Linked DNA regions of Homo sapiens. The protein of the gene in region 2 purifies or fractionates together with the protein of the main gene of each other region. This does not show direct contact. Each region holds a gene or a part of one and is shown on either strand. Other genes may lie near its edges.

Region 1 (3,817 bases), on a different chromosome or scaffold from region 2:
TCTTGTTCTCACAACACAACATCGAAAGGGCTGCTTTTCTTCACATGTGTCTTTTAAACAGGGAGAAAACTTAGAAGCATGCAAGGGGCTTCCTGTAACATTTCATTGGCTGGGTCATACCACATGCTCATTCCCAAACCAGGCACTGGGAAGGTAAATATCTGATTAGCTTAGAATAAACATTTCTTTCTGAGGCTGAGGAGGGGGATTGGGATATTAAATATCCCAATAGACTTATGTTTTTTCTGCCAGAAAGAATGAGGAATGGCTATTGATAGGGAGCCAACAATGTGTGCTGGAGGGGGCTCATTGGAGAAATTTGAGCAGGGGAGCCACAAGATTAAATTTGAGTATTAAGGCATTCTGGTTATGGTGTAAAATGGGTTAGCAAGCTTTTTCTTTAAAGGACCAGGTGGGAAATATTTTGGACTATGTGGTCTCTGTCATATCTACTTAACCGTGCTGTTGTCTGCTGTTGTAGTGTGAAAGCCACCATGATTATATGTAAGCAAACAGGCATGACTGAGCTCCTATAAAACTTTATTTACAAAACCATAATGCAGATTGGATTTGGCCTGTGGCCTATAGTTTCCTGGGATTGATGGGAGATAATCATGCAAAGAAACCAGGAGACAAAGGAAGCTTTTGCAGTAGTCAGCTATAGTTTCCATGTCACACATCCTTGGAGTAGCATCAATGTATTACAAGGTTTTCACCCGTCCATGGTAAAATAAATAACGTTAGAAATCTCAGTTACTCATTTTACTATGTTGGCCTTCGTTATGCCTTTTTCACTTGTTTTGCTTAATTTTTTTTCCTGTAAGAAATAACATTAATAGTTGGCAGTTTTCTTTTAAATAGAAGTCATTTTGTAAATGTTTGTGTTCCCAGTGGCAGTGGGAATATAAAACAGAGGCAGAAGAGAGGTATAGTCAATATGATTTAGTGATAATTGAATGAGAAAGGCTTGGGGGACAGAGAGAAATCTCAGATGATGTACAGGTTTCCAGATTGCACACTAGTATTTAACCTGGACATGAGGAAGGAGTAGGAAATTTTCTGGTGAATACAGGAGAGCAAAGAGCAGCAGGTCAGCAGGAATGACTAATGTTTTTCGATGCATGTTTAATGGAATATTCGTGTAGGGTATTTTGAGTAGGTAATTGGATAATCAGCATTTATAACTCGCATCCTACTAGTTTGACTCTAAGTAATAAGACTTGTCAAAGATCCAAGAATCTGAAAGTCAGTAATAAATGTCCATGTGCATCATCGTCCGTGACAGAAAGTCAGCATCCACAGAACACAGAATTGGGACAGATGAACTTAATAGATAAAGATGAATATCGGAGTTGTTCCTCTTAGGGAATGATACTCTCCATGACCTGTGTGAGTCACAGCTGCCAGAAAAGAAAGAGCAAGGAGCGTATGAAGGCAGCACAGCAAATTCGGTCCTAGAGTGCCCTGCTTGGCTTCATGTCATAGTTCTGACTTCTAAATAATCATTTTCTGCAAAATGTGCTTTTTGTTTTTCCCTCTTGCCGCCTGCAGCCAATCAGAATCTTTTTAGCAGGACATAATGAAAAGAAGTAAGAGAAAGAGTGTTTTTTTGTAATGGGATAGTATTTAACGTAAACTTGAGAGTGAGTACCAGGATTATACTTAGAATTTATGGACTGGATGGGAAGACTGGATAGAAATCTAAAGATTGCTGACTCAAACACAATGTGGTTTCTTTGATTTATTTTCACAGCTCTGAATTCACGACTGTTAATTGTATTCATATGCATTATAACTTTACAAAGCATCTTCCGAAACCAAATATTTACTGATTTATTATAATTTGTATGACTTTATTATAGAACTGACTTTCCAAGTGTTCATGAGAATTGTTTAGAATTTGCTACATTGTATCATCTCAGCTGTGTCCACATGAGCTATCTGTCACCTTGTCTTAATGAATAATTGTTCACTAGGAATATTGGTTTTGGCATTGAAATGATCTATATCTAAATGCAGATAGGACCCGGGACCACTTTTGAACATTAATGTTCAAGCATCTTAAAATTACACATAATGCTTTCATAATCTGACTTCTGCCCCACTCTCCATCTTTAGCCCTTTTCCCTGTGTGCCCTGTCTCTGGCATTACTGAACTGCTGGCAGTGCCCTACTCACTCATCCTTCTATTGTAGGCAAATACTTTCACTCTTTCAGGAGTCGCTCCCGCTCTTGCTGCTGCGTGGCATGCCGTCACCCTTTCCTGCCCTCTACACCTTTTAATCTGGCTAGTCTCAATATTTAAGTCTCTGCTTGGGCATGTGTTCTAGAAAAGCCATCTCTGACATGCTTTATTTTAATTCTTTTTAAACCCTAATGCCTAGCATGTATTTAGCAGGACTCAATAAAATATTTCTGAGTAAAACAAAGACTGTTTTTACAAAGATGATGTGCAAGACTCTCCCCTGCAGTCTTGGAGCAGAGGGGACAGACGTGGAGGAATAATGTACAGTTTAGGTGGTCAAGATGCAGTAGAAAAATCAGTAAAGTACTAAGGCAGCCTCAAGGAAGGAGGTACCTGTTTATTTGGGGAAAGACATGCAGAATCAAGGAAGACTTCATATAGCATTGTTTCAAAAGATGAAAATAAGGCCAGGTGTGGTGGCTCACACCTGTAATCCCAGCACTTTCAGAGGGAATCACGAGGTCAGGAGATCGAGACCATCCTGTCCAATGGTGAAACCCCATCTCTACTAAAAATACAAAAATCAGCTGGGTGTGGTGGTGCTTGCCTGTAATCACAGTTACTCAGGAGACTGAAGCAGGAGAATCACTTGAACCAGGGTCGCGGAGGTTGCAGTGAGCTGATCACACCACTGCATTCCAGCCTGGTGACAGAGGAAGACTCTAGCTCATAAAAAAAAAAAAAGAAAAAAGAAAAAAAGAAAATAAATTTGTCAGAATAGTGGAGAGAAACATTTTAGATATTAGGAAGATGTTGTACACTAATAAAGGTGTCAGCAGTGATTTTGGAAATCATTTATAAGGTACTATTAGGAAGTGGAGAACAGTACACTGTGTCACCTTATATGTTTCTACTGTATTTTAAAGCTGTGTTTCTGGTGGTTTTGTTCATGGATGTTGGGTGGATGAATTTGTGAGGGAATTTTTGACATGTTTGTTTGTCTTCAATCTGGTGACATCTGCTATCTCCCCAAGTGGGTTTTTGAAGTTTTTGAGAATTATTTCTTAAATGACAATTTCACAAAAGATGAAACACTCAATTTATGAAATAAAATGAAATGTCTCAAATCTGTTTTTAAAAGGCAATAGTTTTTAACTGTTTTAAGTGGTTGATTTTAACTGAATGTATGGATTTTTCAACAGAACAAGACTTAAAGCTGACATCAGAGGAAGAGTCACAAAGGCTTAAAGGCAGTGAAAATGGCCAGCCAGAGGCATGGAAACTTTTAAATTTAAACTTTTGTTTAATGTTGTGTTTTTTTTGCCTTAATAATATTAGATAGTCCAAATGAAATTACCTTTCAGACTAGGCTTTGAGAATCAGTAGATTGTTTTTTTAAGAATCTTTTGGCCAGGCAAGGTGGCTCACGCCTGTAATCCCAGCACTTTGAGAGGCTGAGGCAGGTGGATCACGAGGTCTGGAGATCGAGACCATCCTGGCTAACATGGTGAAACCCCGTCTCTAGTAAAAATACAAAAACTTAGCTGGGCGTGGTGGTGGGTGCCTGTAGTCCCAGCTACTCGGGAGGCTGAGGCAGGAGAATGGCATGAACCCAGGAGAGGGAGCTTGCAG
Region 2 (4,272 bases):
AGTAGAACATAGACGGCTTCCAACATTCCATGAAATATTAAGTCCAGTGCTTACAGACCAGGGAAGCAGGAATTCCAGATTCTCCAACCTGGATAGAATGACCTCACTGCAACCTCTTCCTTCCGAACTTGGAGCCTGCAGGTTTCTATCTGCTTTCCCTGAGGTCAATTTTTTTTAAGTTCCCATTCATTCAATACAGATTATTGGTATGCCTGTTCCATTCCGGGTACTGTCGTAGGCACTAGGACTCTTCTTGGTGCTGGTAGTGTCATGCTAATCCCAAGGTAGAGTGGTCCAATGACAACGAGGAACTCCTTATAGGGATCTCCAAGAAAAGCTTTTCCATAGTCTACATAAATGAACTTTTGCAATCCCAGAGCAAGAGGGTTCCATCTGCTGTCTTGAATTTCACCACTTTTTCTACCCTTGACACTGCCTCCCCAAGCCCCCATACCCAGTGGCATTTGTGATGGCTTCTTTAAGAAGCTCCACTAGGGGAAAAACAGGAGAGAAATACTATCTTCAGTCATCAAAAACAAATTTGGGAGAGGACAGGATTTAGCTAAAGCCACGTAGTAAGGTAGAGAAGGAAAAAGAAAAAAGGGGGAGAAAAATAAAAGGAAAAGGAAGAAGGAAAAGAACAACCTATTCATACGCATTTAGGAGAGTTGCATTCATTCCAAGCCCTAAAGCCATACCTTGAATACAACTGATTGCGATAACCACCTTCGTAATAGTCAACTCCAGACACAGGCTGATGCCAGTCCCCTGGCCTGGATGCATAATGGGGCTGCTGCTGATGGTCTGCCCTGGGCTCCTGCTGTGGCTGGGGGCTCCCACGGTTGTCTTGCCATTGGTGAAACCTCTCTCCATTGTGCCAAGAGTGAGGGACAGGCCGATGATGTCCATCTCTCCGAAACCCTCGGTCTGGATCCTTTGAGGGTGCTGTGGCCTTCCCTCGTGTCTGGGGCAGCCTCTGGGGAGCCCAAAGTTCCATCCTTGACTCTCTGAATTTGTCCTGGGTTTTGAGTAAGTTGTGCAGTTATTTTATCTTCCTGCAGACAAAAGAAAAAGGAAAAAATCATCACTTGAAGCCTATATCCAAACATAGTGGTTGATTAGGTTTTGTGAAAAGAGCAGCTATGGTCCTCGAAATATATCTAAAACAAACCATATGGTCACGGATACAGAGAAATCTGAGAAACAATCTCAGATACATGAAGCAAATAACAGACTAGACAATTATATTAATATTGCTTAAAAAATTAAAAAGTACATGTGGAACAACGACAGATGAGGGAGGCAAGGGAGACAGATAACAATAATAGGTACAGCTAAAAATGCTATCAAGGAATCCCAGTTGATGTTTCTTCACATATTCCCCCAGCAAGTGTTTATTTAACACTTACAGCGGAGGCCCTGTGGTATCATAAACAGAGTGGGTCTTGCAGAGAGCTAGATCAGAGTTCAAATCCTAACTCTGCCACTTAACTAGCTAGTTCATTTTTTCAAGCCTCAATTTCCTTACCCATGAAATGGAGACTGTAAGGACTACCTTGCAAGGTTATTGACAGAGTTAAAGATAACCTATGCGAAGTGCGTAACATGTTACCTAACATGTTAAAATGCTCAATAAATAGCAGTGTTATCAAGGATAAAGATTAGGGTAGTATGAGTGGCTGAAGATGTTTATTAAACAAAAAGAAATTTAGACTGACCTTTTCAAGAAGCACCTTTTCTGAATCCTTACATTAACCCCCTCAAAGAACTAGAACCTATATAATATGGTCATACCTGCTCCTCCTCCAGAGGAGCCAACAAGAGGCAAATTTGGGATTGTTTTCATAAGAAAATAGAAGGCCATATCTCAGGATTCTTCCCGGTTGGAGATTTTAAATGCTGAAAGTCTCCCTAGCATCAAACTAATTTTCCCCCACGTAATCCTGAAAAAGGGAAATTGCTCCAAGGACTGATTACCTTCCAGGTTCCTCTGCCCATTGCACGGGGTAGCGGGGGACAGGGGTTGCACCCACAAAAGGAAAGCACGCCTCAGATCTTACTCTTGCTCAGGGATTCCTTGTGTCAGGAGCATCCACAGGCTAGGTCGGCCTCGATTTTTTTCTTCCTTAGGAACTGTTTTAGGTTGCAAGATTCTGATCAAATCAGTTAACTTGTTTCCACTACTGAAGGTCCCAGCCTCATATAAAAATTCATATCAGAACAAAAGGTCAAAAGAGTGGGTGTTGAAATTGAGACGTCACTCTGCTCAAACACCAGGGAGCCGAGGTCGACAGCTATGAGCCAAGAGCTATGAGACGGCAGAACACACAAGAAGAACAAGGTGCGGAGGGGGCCTCCCACCTCAAGGTCACTCACAACTCAGGGGAACCTCTGGCTTCCTTCCCATATCATCTCACTCCCTTGAAAAAGCCAGGTGCAATGACAGCCTTTGCCAGCAAATCCCAGGAAAGGCCAAATGTCCCAGACACAGGGAAGGGCACATGAGCCTTTTCTGAAGGCTGGTGGAACTCAAAACCATTTGGACCAAGTAAGCAGAATGAGAAGAAACCTGCTTTCTCCTTGTCCCCAGATAGTCTCATTAGGCAGCCCTTTCCCAACTGCAAAGGTGCAACACCCAATCTTTCCACTGAAATCACATCATTTTGCTGCCAAGAGACATCAACTCCAGCAAATCAGTCCTCAGATTAAGGACACCAAATAAATAACACCTTCGATTCTCAAAATGAAGGAATTACATCTATGATGACAAATCAGACTCACACATTCATGTAGATGACCTTTCCTAGCCCCAGTAAAGGCAATCTTGCCTTTCCTAATCTGACGGCACAGCACGTCCAGCTCAAAGAGGGGAAAGAAGGGAGCGAGTGTTCCCACACACCTGCTCTGATGGCTTCCCACCTTCCTTCAGCGCTGCTCCAGGGACCTGGCCCAAGAGTGCCTCCTCTCCTCTTGGAGACTGTCAAAGTCCAGGTGCCACATCTACCAAGACTCCCCAGGCCCTCAGATCTACATCATGTCAGTTACCTTTGCAACTGCCCAACCTCCATGGAGCTGATTCATTAGGGCAAAGTACAGCCCAGATACCGCAGCCCAGGACCCGCCTGACTTGACGAATTTGCTCAGAACCCTGTCAGAGACTGGCGCTTCTGTTTGCCTGAGCATGGGCTGAGCCAGGTTCACTCACATGAGAAATCATCCAAATTCCCACAGCAATCACGGAAGAGAGACATCAGGAAGAGGAAGTCCAGAAGCCCCAAGGCAGCCTGGTCTGGCGAGAAAAGCACCACCTTTGGGGTGTTAACTCGGGGCTCTACCACTAGCTGGTTCTGTTACTTAACCTCTCCGAGTTTCAGTTTCTTTTTCTTTAAAATGGGAATGGCAATGCTTAGCTTATGAGGGTCATTACGGGGCTGAAATGTTGGTAAAGCAGCACATGATATATAGGTAAGTATGCCCTGCAGATCAATATTATCTTTTCCTTCCCAAAGAGACAAGTTAATTCCACTGGTTGAGGCACATGGGGAAGGGGACACGCTCACTGGTGGGAGCAAACACCTGGTTTGCCCAGTGTGGGTTTTTCTTATGTATATTTCTCACCATTGGGTTCTGGTTATGTAATAAATTCTGTCATCTAGCTGGAAGGCAGATTTATATCCCCAGTACTGAACTGAAGGCACTAAAAAGTTTTCCATTATAACAAGAAAGTAGTTTCTCGCACTTGAAATATACATTTCTTCTGCATTATTAAGGTAAACGCAGAAAAGCACATGACTACTTCTGAATTAATATTTTAAAATTCTGAATTTGCTCTTTTAAAAAATCCCAAATGGTTTATTCTTTCTCTCAACAAATGCTTACTGTGTTCCTATTAAGGGCCAGGATTTGACACACATAAATATAAAAGACACAAATTAGTCTCTCATGTCTGTCCTTACTAGTCCAGGGAAAACCACCCCTCTTGGGTCTCATGGTCATATAGGGTCATGTACCTAAGCTACAAGATTTTCTCTCAGCCCCTCAGCTGACTCTAGAACCCAGCAACTGAGCATAGAATTCTCTGACTGTAGCTAATGGTTTCTTTTTTTTTTTTTCCAAGACAGAGTCTTTCTCTGTCGCCCAGAGATGGAGTTTAATGGTACAATCTCAGCTCACTGCAACCTCTACCTCCCAGGTTCAAGCAATTCTCCTGCCTCAGCCTCCCGAGTAGCTGGGATTACAGGTGCGTGCCACCACCCCTGGCTAATTTTTGTA

Evidence for each region.
Region 1: the proteins of SEC16B (region 2) and POTEF purify together in Homo sapiens (affinity purification with mass spectrometry; 2 studies listed by BioGRID and IntAct, with this or other methods). This does not show direct contact.

The regions. Positions count from the first base shown.
Region 1 is NC_000002.12:130,087,708-130,091,524, reverse strand, and holds part of POTEF (POTE ankyrin domain family member F), read left to right. Parts: intron 1-3,387; coding exon 3,388-3,458; intron 3,459-3,817.
Region 2 is NC_000001.11:177,966,985-177,971,256, forward strand, and holds the start of SEC16B (protein transport protein Sec16B), read right to left. Parts: upstream 3,075-4,272; 5' UTR 2,900-3,074; intron 1,056-2,899; 5' UTR 998-1,055; coding exon 699-997; intron 1-698. Other genes in the region: CRYZL2P-SEC16B (protein transport protein Sec16B), read right to left, coding at 699-997. UniProt on the Homo sapiens protein: Plays a role in the organization of the endoplasmic reticulum exit sites (ERES), also known as transitional endoplasmic reticulum (tER). Required for secretory cargo traffic from the endoplasmic reticulum to the Golgi apparatus.